Linked DNA regions of Homo sapiens. The protein of the gene in region 2 interacts with the protein of the main gene of each other region in a pairwise test. Each region holds a gene or a part of one and is shown on either strand. Other genes may lie near its edges.

What was found. Proteins that work in one complex are often made in the same cells at the same time.
Region 1: the proteins of NUP58 (region 2) and YRDC interact in binary tests that used the Homo sapiens proteins (3 or more experiments, as listed by UniProt).
Region 3: the proteins of NUP58 (region 2) and RGR interact in binary tests that used the Homo sapiens proteins (3 or more experiments, as listed by UniProt).

What each region holds. Positions count from the first base shown.
Region 1 is NC_000001.11:37,805,188-37,813,146, reverse strand, and holds the start of YRDC (threonylcarbamoyl-AMP synthase precursor), read left to right. Parts: upstream 1-4,938; 5' UTR 4,939-4,966; coding exon 4,967-5,355; exon of another isoform or gene 5,356-5,357; intron 5,358-5,931; coding exon 5,932-6,046; intron 6,047-6,170; coding exon 6,171-6,290; intron 6,291-7,959. Other genes in the region: uncharacterized protein C1orf122, read right to left, coding at 4,074-4,169, 4,415-4,616, 4,708-4,742. UniProt on the Homo sapiens protein: Cytoplasmic and mitochondrial threonylcarbamoyl-AMP synthase required for the formation of a threonylcarbamoyl group on adenosine at position 37 (t(6)A37) in tRNAs that read codons beginning with adenine.
Region 2 is NC_000013.11:25,311,623-25,318,645, forward strand, and holds part of NUP58 (nucleoporin p58/p45), read left to right. Parts: intron 1-1,260; coding exon 1,261-1,410; intron 1,411-1,991; coding exon 1,992-2,129; intron 2,130-3,734; coding exon 3,735-3,845; intron 3,846-7,023. UniProt on the Homo sapiens protein: Component of the nuclear pore complex, a complex required for the trafficking across the nuclear membrane.
Region 3 is NC_000010.11:84,248,051-84,255,073, forward strand, and holds part of RGR (RPE-retinal G protein-coupled receptor), read left to right. Parts: intron 1-859; coding exon of another isoform or gene 860-871; coding exon 872-993; intron 994-4,806; coding exon 4,807-4,960; intron 4,961-6,275; coding exon 6,276-6,393; intron 6,394-7,023. UniProt on the Homo sapiens protein: Receptor for all-trans- and 11-cis-retinal. Binds preferentially to the former and may catalyze the isomerization of the chromophore by a retinochrome-like mechanism.

The DNA of each region.
Region 1 (7,959 bases), on a different chromosome or scaffold from region 2:
CACCACGCCTGGCTAATTTTGTATTTTTAGTAGAGACGGGGTTTCTCCATGTTGGTCAGGCTGGTCTCGAACTCCCAACGTCAGGTGATCCTCCCGCCTCAGTCTCCCAAAGTGCTGGGATTACAGGTGTGAGCCACCATGCCTGGTCTAGGGAATTGACTTCTTTTTGACCTTCTGCACTCCCTTCCCCAAAAGGATTGTGGCTTCTGTTGACCATTGACCTCAGCAGAAGTTGATAAGGCAGGAGGTTTCCAGTCCTCCTGGAAAACCAACTGCTGAGCATGAGTTGTCCTTGGCTGTCTCTGGGCCTCGCACCCATGGGAAGTTTTGAGGTAGGGCCCTTGCTGTTTACAACTTCTGAGAGAGTAGTGATGGGACCCCAAAGTAAGCTTGTATCAGAGGGCAGTAATGACCTTCCCATATCCCCATCCTGTGGTCACCTGGGATTTGGGTTCCCTGGGGCGGAAGTGGGAAATAGGAGCCCAGGGAAGGACATCTGAAGCACCCACAGTTTAAATAGCGACTCTTCTTGGTTAGCCAGGGCTGTGCTCATGTTGGGCCCTACCCAGGTCAGTGGCCTTTTCACTCTCAAAGATCGGGGGTGACGAAGCAGCATCTTAAACAGTGTTTAGGCTGACAGATTTTTCCAGTTGAAGAAGCTGAAGTATCTGCCTTTTGAGGGTGACTCTAGATTACAAGAGAGACTATCAGATCCAATCAGCTTTTGAAAAATCAGGAATGTGCTTAAAATGCCAGTGAGTGGTTGTGAAGATCAGGTTTATTTCCCAGGATAGGCAGTCTTTCTTTCCCTCCTTTTCCAGTTCTCTTTTCCTACCTGTCCTTCCATAAGCCTGGTCTCTAGTGCCGAGGACCTTGGAGAAGAGAGGGCCCCTAGCTAAGCTGGAGCCAGAAAGAACCTTCATGGTGAGTGTGGTTTCCCAAACTTGGGAAATGAACCTAGGGTGAGGTTAGGGAGGATTTGTAGAATTCTAGCAGGTAAAAATCAAGCCTTTTTCCCCTCCCATAGTAAACTTAACCATTTTCACCCTGTACGTTATCTTCTAGCTCCTACTAACATCTCCAATTAGACAACCGCTTCAAAGGGTGCTTAGCACCAGGGATTGGGGTTCATGGACTTAGGAGGTGGTAAGGAAACTGGCTGGCACCACCAAACTGCCTTAGTGAACTTGGCCCTTCCCAGGCAGGTAGGTTGGGCATTGAGGGAAGGTGGCCCAGTCTTTGCTGGCAGGGTCTGGCCAGTCTCATGGGGGCACCACCAGTTTGGTGACAGAAGTGGTGTCATTTATTGAATTCCACCTCCGTTTAGAAGGAGATCATGGTACAAAGCCCAGGAGGGGCCTTAAGATGTGAAGATCTCTCTGAGTAAAAGGCAAGGGGCTTCTCTTCTTCACCTCTGGGATAGTTGGTAGATCGGAGAGTTTTATTTTCAGGGTCAAGGCTGTGGACTGATGGGGATATTGGAGGGTGGGTGGGTTTTCCTGAGAGACTTTGTATAATGCTGAATGTGTCCAGAGGGACAAGTTTGCAGAACCTCATATTGGTATATTAAAGAAATAATAAAATAAAAAAGCACTTTAGGTTATTTTATCTTTAACCCGATTGCTGCAATTTCTTTTGTGTGTATATATACATATATATACTTTCCACAAAGTTTTATTTTTTGCTCAGAATAAAAAGTTAAATTGAGGTGTGAAAAGAAAAGCACTTACCTTGGTGCAATATGTGTAGCTTGATGGTCGTTGTCCCATGTGGCCCTGGCCTGGCAGCGTTTTTCCGCTCAATCAGCCCTGTGCTGTGAGACTGTCCATAGGGAAACACTATTATGCATTCTCAGCAACCGCTCAATCTATGCAAGCCTTCCCTGTGTGCCCCAGGGCGCCCCCTCAGGCTCTCTGAAGAACTGCTGTGGGTCCTGTTTTCTGCTGACTGTTGAGGCCCTTTTTCATCACTTCTTGGTCTCTCGCCATCTTTTCCCTCTTCACCATTACAAAATGATGCCTGAAAGGAAGGAACAGATTGTTCCTAGGTAGAAACCTGGCACCTTCTAGACTTTTATATTTGTAATCACATCCATTGTCCTTAAAGACTTTTCCAGAGTGATTGAAACCATTGATTTGTGGAACTGCAACAATATTTCTCAAGAGTTTACAATTGTCTTACACCACCAATCAGAAATATGTTTGGGGAGGCATGGGTGGCAGGGGGCAACATGAGCCATTTCCATACTGCTCCCCATACTACCTGTGTTGGTTCCTTAAGCAAAAAGGCCTCCAGCCTTCATTAAATCCTATAAACAAACATTACATCCCATGAATCATTATCAACTTTCTTCCTTTACTCCACCTCCCCCATTTTATCTTCAATTCTCAGGCTATAGAATAGACAAGTTTTAGAATATACTTCAGCCAAAGCAGAAGGATTTTCATAGATCCAATATGCAAATAGTTCTGCTGTGACATAGATCAGAAATTGTCTGTTCCTTAATATTTGGGGGTGGAGGCAACAAAACTGAAGCATATTTCTGATTGGTTAGCCATTTTGGCCTGTTTCCTCTTGCATGTTTTTTAGGGAGAGAGGGAAACAGTCCTGTATTTCTTCTGATGCCCTTTGGGGAAGCCGACGACCACTGGGCATTTCTCACTGTTACTCCTGTTCAAGAGAGGGCTTCTCAGTCTGCACTGAAAAATGCAAATTAAACTGGATCTTTATGTCAATGTGTACATAGTACAAGCTTTTTTACTGGAATTGAGGTTTAAAACCACACACTGCCCTTTTGGTGGTGTGCCTGTTGGGCCAAAAATTGGGTGATAATGTAGTGTCACTTTCTCAGCTCAATGCAGTTTCTACTTTTTCTTATGGGAAAATTTTTCATAAAACCTTTTTGCACCAAAACCCAGGGGTGTTTTTTGCAATATCCTTGTTATCCTCGTAGTGTGCCAAGTCAGAGGCTTTCTCTTGCCCTTTTCCTGCTGTGTTCTCAGGCCTCCCAAGGGCTATTTGACTCAACAGTCTACATCCTTCGTTGTGTTTTGGAGAATGTGGGGGTGGGGGTCAGAGTTCAAGGTGTCTGTTCCCTTTTCCTGTGAACTCTTTCTAGTCCCTATTTGGGGAGGGTGGCTGGAAACAGATTTTTGCTGAATTTCTGGCTCAGATCTTCTAGCCAGGAAAGGCAAGAGCCCCCAAGAGCCCTTTTTTTTGACATACACTAATCATTGGCCGGGGTCTTGGTGACAACTTTTAAAATCCCAAATAGTTTTATTTGGATTATGTAAAAGTAAGTGTGAAACATGGGAACAACGGACTTCCACTGAGCGATGTGAAAACGTTACAGGTTCAGTACTTCCAAAGGAAGAAACCTCCAAACCCAAAAAAGAATAAATATGAATTTGTATTTTTGAAGAATGTGAAATAATGGTGTTTGCTTAATTGCTCATTTTGTATAAACTTAATATTGTACTTTAAAATATCTGCTAAAAAGTGAAAATTTAACTTTTTGGAATTGAAAAAGCAATATTAAATACTAATGAAATCCTAATTAAATGCTTATTTAAATCTGGTAGTATCTGTGGCATTTCTTACCAACCCTGCCCATAGTTGACATTTTTCCACCACTCCCCCCTTCCCAGCCATCAGTCTTGGAGAGGGGACAGAAAGGAAACGTCGGTCACCAGGAGAGTCTGCAGGTTTCCTTTTAATCAAGGCTCTACTGAAGGTGTTTTGTGGGGCTAAAAGCCCCCAAAACATGAAATGGACATGTAACACCACCTGGATCCCCCATAGCAGGCCAGACCACTCTGGCGAGCACTGCTGGTCTGCCCAAATCTGGGTAATCAGACTGGGTATTCATTGGCTGCATTTCAAAGCACAGCACTGCTTTCAGCCAGGATGAAGTGGGAGTGAACCCAGCTGCTAGCAGAGCTGCCACTCCAGGCTGAGAGCCAAGTACCAGCCACTGCCAGTGAAGACTGGCCCCTTTACTGAAGGGAGTTGTTCAGAGTCCAGCCACCGGCCCTGGGGAGGGAGAGAAGTCAGGGTATTCTGCTCGGGGATGGTCAGGGCTCCGCAGCTCCATCGCCAGCATCCTTTGGAAAGCCGCCTCTGGCGGAGACAGCCGGCTGGGGGGGCGCTCCAGGTTTGGCTGAGACGTTCTAGTTGGAACAGAAAGGAAAAAAGTGAGGCTGGGAGGCAAGGCCTTGGATTAGGCCCCACAAGGATGTGGCCATTTGGCATTTGGATAGTATTAACTTTTTCGAAACCTCTCACCAGATCAAAGGAGGTTAGGGATAAAGCGGCGGAGACATACTTCCCCCCTCCAGGGTAAGCTAGGGCTTGGCCAGCCTAGCCAGTGGGCAGACCCCACCCCACCCCAGCCCAGCCCAGGGTGGGCACTAACCCCGCCACCAGCCGGCTCCGGGCGCCGGCGGCCCAGCTGCCGTAACATCTCCTCGCAGGCTGCGATGGTGTCCAGGAGCTGCCGCTGCCGCTGCTCCACCGCGTCCAGCAGCTGCTGGGCGCGCTCCTCCCGGGGCGGCTGTGGGGGTGGCCTCCCGCCGAGCCCCAGCCCCGCCTTCCCGCGGTCCACGCCGGCAGCCTCCCTGCCCGGGAGAGAGCGAGAGACAGACGGTCAGGGCCGGCGCTTGCGCGGGGCCAAGCCCCTTCCTCCCGCCCCGACGGGCCCCCTCTCACCCCCGTGACCAGTCTGAGCCCGGGCCCCATTCCATCTCCGCTTGCGCGGCCCGACCACCGCCCCCCTTTCGGCCGCCCCCCTCCCCAGCGCTGCGTTAGGGCTTCGCAAGGCTGCGCCCCGCCCCGTCCCCACCGGTCTCCTTCAATCCTCCTGGGGGTCGTGGTCCCTTTAAGCTGCCCGGCGCAGAGGCGGGGCCGAGTCTCCTGGACCGGAAGCTGGCTGGGAGCGTCACTTCCTCCCGGAAGCGGGCCTGGGCGGATGTCTCCGGCGCGTCGGTGCAGGGGGATGAGGGCCGCGGTGGCTGCCAGCGTGGGGTTGAGCGAGGGGCCTGCTGGCTCCCGGAGCGGTCGCCTCTTCCGCCCGCCGAGTCCCGCTCCGGCGGCCCCCGGCGCCCGGCTGTTGCGGCTCCCGGGGAGCGGGGCCGTGCAGGCCGCGAGCCCGGAGCGCGCCGGCTGGACCGAGGCGCTGCGGGCCGCCGTGGCCGAGCTGCGCGCCGGCGCCGTGGTGGCCGTCCCCACCGATACGCTGTACGGCCTGGCCTGCGCGGCGAGCTGCTCGGCGGCTCTGCGCGCTGTGTACCGCCTCAAGGGTCGCAGCGAGGCCAAGCCTCTGGCCGTATGCCTCGGCCGCGTGGCCGACGTCTACAGGTAAGGCCGCCCCGACCCGGCCCCGCTAGGGGCGGCACCGCGGGAGGGGTTTCCGGTGACAGGCTTGGGAGACTGAGGCGCAGAGAGCGGGAGGGGCTTGTCCAGGCTCACCAAGGAATCCGGAACTGGAAATATGTACCGAGGACTTAACGTGCCCCGGGCCCTGAACTACATGCTGCTGGGAAGCAGCAACACACGAGAAAGGCAGGGACCCTGTTCCCTTGGCGTATTTGTGCTAATTGGGGAGGCCCCCGGGAAAAAAGCAAACAAACACAGTAGCTTAATTTAATAGCGAATGCCTTGAAGAAAATAAAACGTGGAGCTTGATCCCACTATCATGATATCACAGCGGTGCAGCTGTTGTAGTCCCTGAGACCAGAGGCACATGGGCGTCAAGCCAGGGGTGCGCCTCTGGAGCCCTGCTTTCTGCTCAAGCTCTTAGGGAGGTGAAGCAGGGAGACAGGCGGCTCCCATTGTAAACTCGAAGGATTCCTTTTCTACGTCTGCCTAGAGTCTAGGAAAGGACCACCAGTGGCCCTTCAATTTTGAATGGATTTATTCTTCTGTGTTTCCCAGATACTGCCGTGTGAGAGTACCTGAGGGGCTCCTGAAAGACCTACTGCCAGGACCAGTGACCCTGGTGATGGAACGCTCGGAGGAGCTCAACAAGGACCTAAACCCTTTTACGCCTGTGAGTCAAGTTTTCTCTTGTGTCCCCAGACTCCAGGCCACTTGGCTTTCACTAGGATCCAGATAAGACTTACCCTCTTATCCCTTCCAACCTTTCTCATGATCCCTTTCCCCTTGCCTTACAGCTTGTAGGCATTCGGATTCCTGATCATGCTTTTATGCAAGACTTGGCTCAGATGTTTGAGGGTCCGCTTGCTCTCACTAGTGCCAACCTCAGCTCCCAGGCCAGTTCTCTGAATGTCGAGGTGAGTTTACCCAGTCCTTCCCCTGGAAATGTCACCAGCGCACATACTGTTTTCTGTGAATCAGTGGCATTGATAGTACACTGGGATGGCCAGGCATGAGAGTTCTTGGGCCAACAGTGGGAAGGTTGCCCAGCTGGCAGGGAGGTGGTGGGGGGCAATATAAATTAAAAAAATTTGAAAGATTTTATCTCAAAGTCTGAAAAGCCAGGGGGAGAATTGGTCTTTTCTTCAGTCTTTATAATAATAGGAAAGATTATAAGAACAATGTCTTCCTGTTTTTCTGGAGATAACAGTTTCTGGAGAACACAGTTAGGCTATAAATCTTCACGACAGTGCTGTAAAGAAAGATGAAGAAGGCCAAGGGCAGTGGCTCATGCCTGTGACCCCAGCACTTTGGGAGGCCCAAGCAGGTGGATCATGTGAGGTCAGGAGTTTGAGACCAGCCTGGCTAACATGGCAAAACTCCATCTCTAATAAAAAATACAAAGATTAGCCAGACATGGTGGCGCATGCCTGTAATCCCAGCTACTTGGGAGGCTGAGGCAGGAGAATCACTTGAACCTGGGAGGCAGAGGTTACAGTGAGCTCAGATTGTGCCACTGTACTCCAGGCAGGGCTCTAGAGCGAGACTCTGTCTCTTAAAAAAAAAAAAAAAGATGAAGTTTAGCCTCCAGAAAGTTAAATCACTTGTTCCAGGTCACACAGCCATTAAGTGACTGACTCAGATTTTTAACCAGTTTTTGATTCTCGCCCCTGTTCTCTTATCTCTGCCACAAGCCAGATCAAAGAAAGGATCATCCTAATCCTTTCTTGGCTACATAGATTAGAACAAAGGAGGACACATAGAAATTTCGTTTTTTTTCTTATTACTAAGATGTAAAACGTAGTAATAAGCTACATTGTGTCCCCAGACTCGGCCAGACACATAGTATCACACATAGTATCCAGCATCAGGCCTTGGGCCTTCCTTGGGCTTATTACATCCAGCTAATAAGCCTGGATAGAGTAACTTGCGTGCAGTCACATAGAGATACGATGGAAAGTCCAGAGTTAGAGCCCGTATCCCTGCTCAGAACTCCATTCGATGGGTTTTCCATTCCCAGACCTAGAGTGGGGCTCAGGGTTCTTAGAAAGTGAGAGTTCAGCATCCCTTCCCATTCTCAGAGTGCAGGTTTGACTTGGTCCTGGTGGCTGTACCCCAGGAGCAAGAATCGGGATGTGGCACAGGGAGGGGAGGTTTTTACCTTGTCAGCAATCATTTGACCTGTCCAACACAGTAACTGGTATTTATGATTTCCTGTCCCAGATTTCCAGGCCTAACTGCCACTGCAGTGTCTTCCTTGGGGGGTTGGGGAAGCTCTAGCTCAGTTAACAATTCAGTCCACTGCTCTAGGGGGAGTATCCTTCTCATAGCCCAAAGACTGAGTGCTGGTGGCATGCAGAATCTACCATGTTCTACTCTTCCTACCCTGATCAGAGTCGCAGTGAGATCCAGGAGCATAGTTCTAGAGCTAGAAGGAGCTGGAATCACTTGTTCCAGGTTACGCAGCCATTAAGTGACCAGATTTTTACCTAGTTTTTTTTTGTTTTGTTTTGTTTGAGACAGTCTCACTCTCTTGCCCAGGCTGGAGTGCAGTGGCACCATCTCAGCTCACTGCAACCTCCATCT
Region 2 (7,023 bases):
CTTTGGCTTCCCAAAGTGCTGGGATTACAGACGTGAGCCACGGCACCTGTCTTTTTTTTTTTTTTTTTTTTTAAGGTAACCAAGATAATTTTAAGAATAGATTAGAGGTTAGAAGAGACTGATACCAGAGAAATAAATGCTGTTGTAGTAGTTCTTAAGAGAGATATGGCCTAAGCTAAGGTTTTTAAGGATGCTTGTAGTACAGGATATTTCTGAAGTAGGATCGACAGGATTTGTAACTAATGGAGTACAGGAGAAGGAAAGGATGTCAAGGATGACTGGTTTCTGGCTTAAGCAATTGAACTGAGCAAGGTTGGAGATATAGCAAAAAATGTTTGTGGTGAGATATGTAGGAGGCCAAAGGGACATCAAGATAGAACTAGACAATGAGGACTTAGGTAAATGTCAGTTTAGACTTAATCACCTGTAGGAGAAATGATGAAAGTGGGTGTGTCATTGGGGAAGTAAGGAGGTAGGAATGGAACTCTAGGAAGTGTCAGTTAAGACATGAACAGAGGAAAGAGAGCTACAGAAAAAAAGGACTGAAAAGGAATAGGGAGACAGCTGGGGGCTGACAGAGACACAAGGGCCAGAAGAAAGGAATAGAGAATGGTTATTGATAGAGTATTAGAGAGGAGGGACCATTTTTCTGCTGAGAGGGAAAGGAGGAGGATAAATGCTGCATTAGAGGTAAATCTAGGAGTAGAATAAAAATTGATATGTTACATCGATTGGATTTTCTTTTCTGTTTTTTTATTTTTTGAGACAGAGTCTCACTCTTGTCTCCCAGGCTGGAGTGCAGTGGCACGATTTCAGCTCACTGCAACCTCCCCCTCCCAGGTTCAAGTGACTCTCGTACCTCAGCCTCCCGAGTAGCTGGGGTTACAAGTGTGCACCACCACATTGAGCTAATTTTTGTATTTTAGCTAGAGGCAGGGTTTCACCGTGTTGGCCAGGCTGGTCTTGAACTCCTGACCTCAAGCAATCTGCCCATCTTGGCCTCCCAAAGTTTTGGGATCACAGGCGTGAGCCACTGTACCTGGCCATTCTTTTGTTTTTCTTAAAGAGCCATCTTTTTTGTGTTCACCATGGTTTAGTCTCAACTTTTACATATTTTCTCTCACAGATACACCCTTCTTCTATTGGCAAAAGGTAGTATCATGAACTTTTAAGGATCCTTATTGAAACCAGTATAATAGAACACTTACAGGTAAAGTAGGATTTTTGTTTGTTTGTTTATTCATTTATTTATTTAAATAGGAACGCCAGCCACTACATCTGCAGCTACAACAGGCTTCAGTTTAGGATTCAATAAACCTGCAGCATCTGCCACACCATTTGCTCTACCTATTACCTCTACCTCAGCTAGCGGTCTGACTCTTTCGTCTGCTCTGACATCAACTCCAGCAGGTGAGGCAGAATGAAAAACCGTTGCATTTAATGGTTAAATTTCAATTTTATCTGGTTAGAGAACATAGATAGTCACCTTACTACAGAAATTATTGATTTATAAAGAAGAAAATTCAGCTTTGAGCATTGAAGCAGGAGAGGCTGTCTTGATGTCCCTATTTAGAGAGCAAAGCAGGGGAGAGGGCTAGAGAGGTAAAATGTAAAGCTGTTAATATTGACTTTGTTTTGAAGGAGGCATTTAGTGACAGGGGAAGACAAAGACTTGGCATAAACCTTGCCTGGCTTATGATTCATTTAATATGAAGGTGAAGTTGGTGGCCTGGGTTGAAGACAATATTGCTATCTAGAATCAGTTACCTGGTACCATTCTAATACTCCTCAAAGCCCTTATTTCTGTCGCAGATTTTTGCTTTGAAGCTGCTATTTCTCTTTATTCTTAAGTATGTAATTTTTAGCAAGTAGTTCTTCCAAAGAGCCAATTTTATCATGGATGTCAGTTTTTAAAAACATCGTATTTGTATTTTTCTATGGTGCTGTTAAATAAGTTGCCTTTTGAAAGCTTACTATCTCTCTTTTTATAGCATCCACAGGATTTACTCTAAATAATTTGGGTGGGACAACAGCCACAACTACAACTGCATCAACAGGCCTCTCTTTAGGGGGAGCCTTAGCTGGTTTGGGAGGTTCACTTTTCCAGAGTACAAACACAGGAACATCAGGTAATTGATGGTATTTATTCTCCAGAATAGTAAATATTTATATTTAAATGTACTTATTTTTATTTTAGTACTTTGAGCAGGTCACTTTTTAATCTGCATATTTTCCTTTAAATATGAAAACTAAATTATAAAATGATGGTTTTCATACATAATTGGATGTATTAACCGTATTTTATTTATTTATTTATTTATTTTGAGATGGAGTCTTGCTCTGTCACCCAGGCTGGAGTGCAGTGGCGTGATCTTGGTTCACTGTAACCTCCACCTCCAGGGTTCAAGAGAGATTCTCCTGCCTCAGCCTCCTGAGTAGCTGGGATTACAGGTGTGTGCCAGCACACCTGGCTTATTTTTGTATTTTTAGTAGAGATGAGGGGGTTCACCATGTTGGCCAAGCTGGTCTCAAACTTCTGACCTCAAGTGATCCGGCTGCCTTGGCCTCCCAAAGTGCTGAGATTACAGGCGTAAGCCACCGCACCCAGCCTATTAGCCATATTTTAGAAATACATTTTCCTCTTTCTCAATATTGACTAACCAGATAAGGAAACAAAGAAGAGCCTGTTTAAGGAGTCAGTAAACTGATCTAGAGATAACATCTCTTCTAAAAAGAACAAAAATTGTATTAGCTCAGTAATGCATGGTCTTATAAAAGTATAGATTTATTAGGCTGGACACGGTGGCTCACACCTGTAATCCCAGCACTTTGGGAGGCCAAGGCAGGTGGGTCATCTGAGGTCAGGAGTTCGAGACCAGCCTGACCAACATGGTGAAACCGCATCTCTACTAAAAATACAAAATTAGCTGGGCATGGTGATGCATGCCTGTAATCCAAGCTGTTTGGGAGGCTGAGGCAGGACAATCACTTGAACCTGGGAGGCAGAGGTTGCAGTGAGCCGAGATCATGCCATTGCACTCCAGCCTGGGCAACAAGAGCGAAACTCCATCTCAAAAACAATAATAACAATAAAAAAGAAATACAGATTTATCAACACAAGATGCTTGAAATTTTGCGCTTGACTCACAAGTGTACGTTAATGACTTATGATTAACCGTAGTCTGGTCCTTTTTATTCCTTTTGTCAGTGAGGGAAGATGTAAATAAGCAAATGAATTCTAATACTTTTTTTTAAGTTTTGTGAAACGAACTTGGGAGTATGAAATTATATTCAATACATGTTATATTCAAATGTTATAAATTCACACTAGATTATCTTAAAAGTATGTAGTTCCAAAGTGTGTTTGTAAGACAAGATGTATTCACCTGAAAATACACCAACTGAAACTGCTTTTGTAGAGAGGGTTTAAAAGCCCTCTGTAACAAAACCCCTTTATAACAAGTGAAGATTGAGTGCCTACATACTGAATTGATATATGTTCTGGCCCTCGTAATAATGAAAAATCGCATCATCCAAACTGCATATGCCATCGAATTCAAGAAAGGTTATCAGTCTTTGGCCAAAACATCTCCAGGCTTGTTTCTTGTTGTTTGCCTAAATCAAATATGAAGAAAATCTAGGATCCAACTTTAAAAGCATTAGAGTCCTTTGATCAGTAAGGGGAAATTGTTGTAGTCTTTTGATGGAATTTATAAGTTATGTTTTATTTATAGGACTTGGACAGAATGCTTTAGGGTTGACTTTGGGAACTACAGCAGCTACTTCAACTGCAGGCAATGAAGGCCTTGGTGGTATAGATTTCAGTAGCTCCTCAGATAAAAAGAGTAAGTAATGCTGTTGTAACTTTATGTTTTAACAGTTCTGTTGAGGGAATGTCTAGGTTGCTCAAAATTCCTTTGTGTGGAAGATTAGCAGTTATATATTTAGTAGTAACAGTTAGCTATCTTAATGTGTATACGAATATGTATTTTTTAATAGGGATCATGATACATATGCAGTATTGTTTTGTAGTCTGTTCTTATCTAACATCAGAAGCATTTGTCTGTCAGTAACTCTTTTTAAATATTTTAATGCTGCTTAATATCAGTTTTATGGATGGATAAGTTAGTCAACCATTGTTCTCTTGTTAGATGTTTATTTCCAGATGTTTTACTTTGGGAAGTAAAACACTGGGCATTTATCTAAAAAGGCAACATAATATAGTAGTTTAAGAGTGTCTGCTCTGGAGTGGAATTGCCCGGGTTCAGATCCTGGCTCAACTGCTTATAAGCTCTCTGACCTTATTGAAGTTACTTATATTATGTGCTTTGGTTTTTCCTTATCTGTTAAATGGTTTGAGGGTTACTATTTGTAAAACCCTAGCAGAGCCAGACATGTAGGTGTCTCCTTTTATTATCAATGCTTGTTTATATTTTTGGTTATTTCTTAGGGAAAATACCTGGAAATTGGATCATTGGCTTAAAGAGAGGGATATTTTGGAGACTCTTAGTGTATAGTTTGTGAAATCGCTTTCCCAGAAAGATTTTACCAGTTTACCCCCTAACCAGTATGAAAATACCTTTCTTGCTGTGCCCTTGCCACGTTGAATCTTGGTTTTAAAAATTTGCTAATCCAAATTCATTTTGAAAATGTTTTCATTGTTTTTTGTGTTACTTTGTTTTGCACCATCTCTTCTGCTTCTGATGAAAGCATGTTTCACTAGAATATATACCATATATACTAGGGTATATATATACATATTGAACTTCTCTGAAGAAAGATAAATGGATGAAGCTGTGAAATAGTATCTGTGTATCTATATGACTTTTTTTTTAAAAAACTGGACACAGGTTTTATTATAAGGAGATACTATTCTAGGGTGAATTACTATTTTAAAGTTGGTAAAACCTTTTTAAACTTTTACAAAGTTTAGATTTCTCTTTCAGTGAAAATTGACAAATTTCTAAACAAAGTTTGTTTTTACTTAGTTTTCTCTGTAGCAACTCCATAATTAGGAAAGCAGCCTTAGCAGCTTATTTGTTTACTCAAGTGGAATAGCTTGGTACCACTTCTATTACTTTTATTTTAAGCATGAGAGTACTTCTCTATTATAATTGTTTTTAGGCTCAAAGAGCAGGCTAAGGCAGAAGAGTAAGATAAATGTAAGAAATTAATCTCCCCTCCTCTGCCCCTCCCCACATCTTCCTGCTTTCATAGTGTACCTAAGATAGAGTTGAGCAAGGAGAATATATACAATAAATGAAATAAATGTCTTAGATATGACATTAAATTTTATAAATATTTATGTACACACAAACATGTATATAAATAACTTGGGTGTGTTTCTACTATGGATCTCTGATTACTACATCCCAGTTCCCTTTTATCTATTGCTTATATCAAGGGATTCTTTTTTTTTAATCCAAATGATTTCTGTGTTTCTAGTAGCTGTATCAGTTAGCTTGGGCCCTGCAGTACCAGTGTGGGATTTAACCAGATAGAGAGTAGCAATAAACAGCATTCAGTGAAGAGGGGACAGCGTCAAGTGAGACTAGAGATGAGAAGGACCTTGACCCTTTTGAGGAAATGATAGAAGGCCAGATTAGCCATAGAGCAGAAAGATGAGGTTCCAGAAGTCATGGAGTCCTTATTTGCCATGTTGAGTTTTGTCATTATATTAATACCTCAGGCAATTTGGGTCTATTAAAGGGATTTGATGAGATTTGTATTTTAAGATTAAGAGCATTCTGACAGCCATATGGAAAATAGCATTCAGGAAGGCAAGAATTGTCATGGAGAACTGTTAGGAAGCTTTTGTAGAGCTCCACGTGTATTACTGAGGCAAAGCTAGGTAGATTAATTGGGGGTCCATGGTAATCAGGGATCCATGGTAGAAACAGGCTCAAGTTTTTTTTATATACATGTTTGTGTGTATGTAAGTATTTACAAAATATAATAAAATGTCATATCAAAGAAATAATATGCTAGTCAATTTAAAAGTTGGTGAATTATTTGGAGAAACATAAAATGAAATCCTTATTTTTATTTCCATGTCTCATAAAATCTAGGACGTCTATAGAAGATAGGTGGCAATTTTAGAGATACTAAATATGAAAGAAAAAAATCTTAATAAAATACAAAACATGGAAACATAAATTACAGTTGGATGAAAGAGGTAAAAAAGTAAAACCCCATGTGCAGAGGTAAAAGGTAAATGAGGAAAGTAAAATGCTTGATTTTTTTTTTTTTTTTTTTTTGGGATACAGTGACTTGCTGTGTCATGCAGGTTGGAATGCAGTGGTGTGATCTTACCTCACTGCAACCTCCACCTCCCTGGCTCAAGTGATTGTCCTACGTTAACCTCCTAAGTAGCTGGGACCACAAGTACGCAGCACCACGCCTAGCTAATTTTTAAAAAATTTTTTGGCCAGGCGCAGTGGCTCACGCCTGTAATCCCAGCACTTTGGGAGGCCGGGGCAGGTGGGTCATGAGGTCAGGAGATCAAGACCAGCCTGGCCAAGATGGTAAAACCCCGTCTCTACTAAAAATGCAAAAGCTAGCCGGGCACAGTGGCAGGCACCTGTAATCCCAGCTACTCGGGAAGCTGAGGCAGGAGAATTGCTTGAACCTGGGCAGCAGAGGTTGCAGTGAGCTGAGATCACGCCACTGCACTCCAGCCTGGGCACTAGAGTGAGACTCCGTCTCAGAAATAAAAAAAAAATTTGTAGCCACAGGGTTTTGCCCTGTTGCCCAGGCTGGTCTCCAATTCCTGGGTTCAAGCAGTCTGCCCAAAATGCTTGATTTTTAGGTGCTTATTTTTTCACATTTTAACATCTCTGAAATTGAGATACATCTTACAAGAGTCTAATATTAGAAATACATATTAAATTATGTAAATGAGACAAATAATATACTTAATGTTGAAATAGCTCTTAGAAATATATAAGAAAAATACCGTAAGAAAAGTGTGCAAATCACAAGTAAGCAGTTCATGAAAGAAGAAATATACTTGTCTCATGAGCA
Region 3 (7,023 bases), on a different chromosome or scaffold from region 2:
TCTTCCATAAATCGGATATTATTTCCTAACTCATATAGGTGGTTGGAAGTATTTACTTCTATTATGTGTAAATAACTTAAAATAATGCTTGATACCTAGGACTCTACGTAAGTGTTTGTGAACACAAATGGGGGCGTTATCACCACTACTGCACCCGTATGTATCTGGGCTCCTGGAGTGGAGGGACACCGATGCAGTGTGGAGAGGATAAGAGGCAGGGAGGGGCAGTCATAACTAGCTAGTGTCTAATACCTCCTTATACAAAAACCAGGGTCTTCCATCACAGCTTCAGAAGGTGTTTATAAAATTGTTTTCTGAAGCAGACTGGACATTCTCATTCTGGTTTTGGACACTACAGACGGAGGCTGGAGCCCCCCCGGATGTGCATGCTCAGTGCTGACCAGCCTGGGGGGTCTGCATCAGTGAGAACTCTTCCTCCCACAGAGAATTGAAGTTTCCACCTTTGCTTGCCCTTTTAGGCTGGGGAGGCCTGGGATCTCCCCTCTGACTTTGCCTTCATCTTCTGTGTGACCTTGGCTTCAGTATCTTTGCCTCTTTGAATGTCAGTTTCCCCACCTATCAAATACAGGCATGAGCTCTCCTGTGACAGAGGGATCTGATCACGCAGAGAGAGCCTATGGCCCAACCATGGTGCAGTCAAAGTCACCCAGCCTGGAGAGTGTGCATTGGGCTCCACCCCTTCAGCCCAGTTACTTGAGCTCCAACGCCTCATAGGAAAGACACCAATATTAAGGCCCTCTTCAGAGAAGAAGGGCAGCATTCAGGAACACACACTCCAAGCTGTACTTGGCAGGTGTGGGAGGTGGAAAGGATCGGAGGAGAGGTCACTGGTGCCCAGTGTCTCCCACAGGCGCTGGCCCTACGGCTCGGACGGCTGCCAGGCTCACGGCTTCCAGGGCTTTGTGACAGCGTTGGCCAGCATCTGCAGCAGTGCAGCCATCGCATGGGGGCGTTATCACCACTACTGCACCCGTATGTATCTGGGCTCCTGGAGTGGAGGGACACCGATGCAGTGTGGAGAGGATAAGAGGCAGGGAGGGGCAGTCATAACTAGCTACTGCTCCGTGTTTCCCAGTACAGGGAAGTGTGGGTAGGTGTGAGTGTGCATGCATAGGCACTCATTTCAGGAAAGGAGGGAGGGTGGGAGAGTGTGCAGGAGAGCTGTTGGGCCTCTCTTGCCATTACCGCAACCTTGGGCAAGTCAGGGATCCTCTCTGAACCTTAGTCTCCTCCTCTGCGAAATGATTTTCTTTTTCTTTTTGAGACGGAATCGCTCTATTGCCCAGGCTGGAGTGCAGTGGTGTGACCTCGGCTCACTGCAACCTCGGCCTTCTGGTTTCAAGTGATTCTTTTGCCTCAGCCTCCTGAGTAGCTGGGACTACAGGCATGTGCCACCACACCTGGCTAATTTTTGTATTTTTAGTAGAGATGGGGTTTCACCATATTGGCTAGGCTGGTCTTGAACTCCTGACCTCGTGATCTACCCACCTCAGCCTCCCAAAGTGCTGGGATTACAGGCGTGAGCCACCGTACCCGGCTGAGATGATTTTAATAACCAATCTCAGTTTTATTTTGAAAATGAAATGAGATCAGGGATACAGAAAATGCCCTTGCAGACAGGCACTACTCTGCAGACAGGCGCAGAGAGGCTGTGTGTATGTGTGTGTAGCTGGGCATGTGCCCTGGCACCCCACACTTCCATGAGGCTTCATGAAAACTGTCCAGCTCTAGATTTCACAAGCTGCACTGTCAAATACCATCTTCATAATTGGCCATATCAGTGTACAAACTGCTCCATTTTTCCTTAATTTTTTTTTTCTTAAAAGTGACTCATTTTTTAAAATGTAAACACCTGCTACAAGCTCATTCTAAACAACATCTGGGAAATCACAGGTTTAATGTTCTTATAATTTTAATACAATTAAAATAAAAACCTGTTCACCAGAGACCATCTAGAACCCTGTTTACCACCAGGGGTACATAAACATGTTTTGGGGAGCTGTGGCTCAGCTAACCCTCCTAGCAAACCTTCAGCTCACAGCCTCGGAAGCAGAGGCACAGAGAAGTTAAGCAGCTTGCCTCGCTACTAAGGGCAGAGCCAGCACTGGGCATGACCTGGTACCTCCAAGTCCTGAGCTATGAATTTGTCCAGCACAGAGGCTGCTGTGAGGTCTATAGCCAGCACAGCCTCAAACCATGGCATGTCCTCTTTGGAATCCACAGAACTTCCCTTGCCATAGTCACATGTATAGCCCCCTTCCCTGAAAATTCACTGCCCCTCATGGGTCTCTCCTGTCATATGCCTCTCTCCAGGCCAAAATGCTGCCATCGGTCTCATCATTTTGAGTGGCGATAGGTTAGCCCTCTTGTCCACTTGGCCTCAGAGCACTTCTCCCACTCCTTACATCCCAGCCCCTGCCCCTAATGCTCCCTTGGACCATCTTATACACACACACACACACACACACACACACACACACACACCACCTTCTCAGATAGCAACAGGCTTCTCTGCCTCAATATAGAACAGTTAATCCCTGTGCCAGAGGCCTTAGATCAAAGCCCTTTCTATACTGAGAGCATGGCAGAGCAGTGTGAAGGCAGGCAAAGGGGAATGAGGAGGTCTGAATTCATCTACTCCATCCCTGGGTGGTTGTAGGCATGTCACCTTGGCCATCTGTTTCTAAAGCTGAAAGTCTGAGGCAGCACAATGGTCCAGGTAGATATTAATTATTGTGCCCACAGAGAATTGTTTGAACCTGGAAGGCAGAGGTTGCAGTGAGCTGAGATGGCACCACTGCACTCCAGCCTGGGCAACAGAATGAGACTCCGCCTCAATAAAAAAAAAAAAAAAAAGAAGAAGAAGAAGAAGAAAAGAAAAGGCCAGGCATGGTGGCTTATGCCTGTAATCCCAACACTTTGGGAGGCTGAGGTGGGCAGATAACTTGAGGTCAGGAGTTCGAGACCAGCCTGGCCAACATGGTGAAACCCCATCTCTACTAAAAATACAAGAATTAGCTGGGCATGGTGGCATGAGCTTGTAATCCCAGCTACTTGAGAGGCTGAGGAAGGAGAATCGCTTGAACCTGGGAGGTGGAAGTTGCAGTGAGCCGAGATCACGCCACTGCACTCCAGCCTGGGTGACACAGCAAGACTCTGTCTCAAAAATTTTTTTAAAAAAAGACAGGAAGAACTGACATCTTAACTATATTGAGTCTTCCTGTCCTTGCACGTAATTATCGTGCCCACAGTTGGGATGGGAGGTGTCTTAGTCTGCCCAGGCTCCTATAATAGAATGCCATCGACTCGGTGGCTTGAACAATAGAAATTTATTTCTCAGTTATTCAGGCTGGGAAGTCCAAATGCGAGGTGTCAGCATGGTCAGGTTCGGTGAGGGCTTGATTCTTGGTTTATAGATGTTCACCTTCTTGCCATGTCCTCACATTAAAAGAGAGAGATTGTCACTCTTGTGTTCCTTCTTTCATTTTTTTGAAACAGAGTCTCACTCTATTGCCCAGGCTAGAATGTAGTGGCACCATCTCAGTACACTGCAACCTCCGCCTTCTGGGTTCAAGCAATTCTCCACCTCAGTCTCCTGACTAGCTGGGACTACTGGCGCATGCAGCATGTCCAGCTAATTGTGTCCCTTCTTATAAGGGCACTAATCACATCATGGGGGCTCCACCCTTATGGCCTAGTTATCTCCCAAAGGCCCCACCTCCAAATGCCATCACATTGGGGATTAGGGCTTCAACATATAAATTTGAGGGGACACAAACATTCAGTTCATATCAGAAGGTCACATCCAAGCAAACTCCATCTGGAGCCGTATCAGTAGAAGCAAACTGTCAGATGAGGGAGGTTGTAGACATGCTCTTCTCTCCCGATCAAAACCCATCTGGAGAACTGTCCTCTGCCCTGGTATCTTATATACAAAGGAGTATGACAAAAAAACAGTAGACAGAGGAGGGCACCTGGGAAGTGCATCCTGAAGCCAGATCCAGGAGGAACCACTGAATGGGAAGGACCCAATGACACTGCAGCAGAGAGGGGGGCTTCAGGGAAGGGACTAGAGGAGGTCAAATCAGCATGGCTGGTTCATATCAAAAGATGCTGCTGGGACCCAGCCTCTGCCATTGGCACTGAGATTGAGCCCCAACCCCCGAGTCAAGCATTCTCAGAGGGTGTCCTGGAAGCAGGGGCAGTGGCCTGATTCTGAGCAAGTGCTGAGGATGGTGGTAAGTCCAGACTTCTGCCTCCATCCCCTATGACCCTCACCTGAACCCCTGCCTATGCTTCTTCCTGAACTTTGTCTCTGAAAACGTATCTGTCTCTTTGCCACTCCCTCGTCTCTGTCCTCTGAAGAAGATGGTATAGTGTGTCTATTTGGAGACCTTCACCATCCATTATCTATTTCATTCTTCATAACAATCCTCTGAGGCAAGGATTATCATTCCCATTGTGGGCGAGAATACTGGGGCTCAAAGAAGCTCTTCACTTGCCTGAGGCTCTGAGTTATTAAGCATCAGAGCTGGGGTTCTCATTTTGGTGAGTTGCTTAGTTAACCCCTCTCTCAGCCTCAATTTTTTAGACCGTAACACAGGGATAAGAAAACCTCCTTCTGGCAGGATGTAGTGGCTCAATCCTGTAATCCCAGCACTTTGGGAGACTGAGGCTGGTGGATCACTTGAAGGGACACTCTTCGAGATCAGGAAGTCCATTCTTTCTCACTCTATCAGGCCATCTCCTCCTCACAACCTCCTCTTCTTCCTCTGTCCTGTGCAGGTAGCCAGCTGGCCTGGAACTCAGCCGTCTCTCTGGTGCTCTTCGTGTGGCTGTCTTCTGCCTTCTGGGCAGCTCTGCCCCTTCTGGGTTGGGGTCACTACGACTATGAGCCACTGGGGACATGCTGCACCCTGGACTACTCCAAGGGGGACAGGTGAGGTGGGAGGAGCAGCTTCGAGGCTCCTATCCATGGGAATCTTGGCTTTGAACTCCTATGACAAGGGTGCCCCAGCTGAAAATCCAAATGGGGAAATGTCAACGTTTGCCAGACAATCTCAACTTCTTAATCATGATACCCACCTGCAGGTGGACAGTGGGACTGGAAAAAGCCTGTTCTGAAAACTGGCCAGGTGATGGGAATGCTGTGAAAATTGGGACCCAGAGTTGAACCCAAAAAGAGACATCATACAGGGAGCCATTGGCTTGTGTCAGTGGTAACAGTCACCAAGCCGCACCACCTCTTAGCCATCTTCAGCACAGTCGACCATCATGGCTCTGACCTCATCAATTTCTAGAGGGAGCCACGCCCTTGGTACAATAGATTCAAAGAACATTAAGGTCCTTGCATTGGGAGGGAATGCCCTGAGCATACGCTATGAGGCAATCCCTGGAGAAATAGGACAGAATGCATGAGGGTCCCCACCCTCATGGGGCTCGTGTTCTGGTACTGCCCCATCAGGAGGCTCTAGGGAGACAAGGGCTTAGGGGGATCCTTTAGGAACTGCCTTGAGGAATGGTCACATGGGCTCCAGCCCCTCTTGCTTCCACCAGAGCCAAGTTGCATTCATCTGCTTTACCCATGGTGTTTAATCATGAGGCATCTGCACTGGATGACAGGCTTTCCAGGTGATGCATTCTTGAGAACGCTGGGCCTGGTCCAAGTGTCCCTCCATGGCACTCCCCAGCCAGGGTCCAGTCCTTCCAGCTGCCCCTCCCTGGTGGACGGCTCCAAGGTGACATAGTCTTCCCTTCAGAAAATGGGAATCTGTCTCCCTGGGACTCCCACTATTCCCTTCACCTCCCCATGACCACTACCTGGGAACCCAAGCTCTTCTGTGGTGCCTTCAACCATTTCTTCAGTGACACAGTATCCAGTCTTCTTGTTATCCCGTCTCCTTTTAAAACCTTTGGGCCTAGAATGCTCCTTGAATGTTCCTTTCTCTTGGCCCACTGACATCCCCACCATTGGGTGAACATGTTTCCCAAACTAAAATTTCCCATTCTTCATGCTTGGGGGACAAACAGGAAAGCAGGGCTGAGCACTTGAACAAGAAAGAGGCCTCTTCCTCCTTGTAGCTCCCTGGCTCCTAAAGGGAGTTCACCTGGGACCCGGGAGCAACCACACTGCGAGCTTGTCTGAATGGGGCATTTCCCCACAACCGATCATCTAGGGCAGAGCTGGTGGGTCCTTGAGGGCAGCTGGCCATCCCTGAGAGCTAACCCCAATCCTCCACCCGCTCTCCCTGTAGAAACTTCACCAGCTTCCTCTTCACCATGTCCTTCTTCAACTTCGCCATGCCCCTCTTCATCACGATCACTTCCTACAGTCTCATGGAGCAGAAACTGGGGAAGAGTGGCCATCTCCAGGTAAGGACCCCCTTCCGGAGTGTTATCTGATGGTGCAGCGCAGCTCCAGGCTCTTGGTGTCCCGAACAAAGAATTGGATGTGACACACACAAACAGCAAAACAAATATTCATTGCTTTTGCAGCAAAAGCTTATTCAGCACAGTATTACACTCTCAGAGAGGGGAGGGTGGACCAATCTCTGCGAAGTGAGATCAGCACCAGTTTGGTGTATTTTGGGCTCTTTTATATGTTTATTTTTCTTCTCTTCCCAAGGCTGCCTAATCTCTAGCCAGCATCTGCCTTTTGATTGATAGGTGGGTTGCTTATGTTACTTTGGCCCTTGTGTGCTTGCCTGTCACCTCCATCCCATAATCTTAAGTACATGCATGATATGCAGTCCATATGCATCAGCTTTAATAAGCTTATTATCATACGGGGTCATTTTAAGGATACTTTTTCTCTCTAATGCACATGCGCATCTCTGAGGAGCTGCCCCTGACAGGTTTGGTCCAGACCTAGCTGGCCACAGGAGCTTCTTACTCACTTTTTAATCTTATTTGTGTTTTGGTTGCTCAACTTCTGTTTCTTGTCTTGCTTCTTGCTCACTGCCTCTTCACCTTGCTTCTGCTTCTACTCATTCCGCCCTTTAA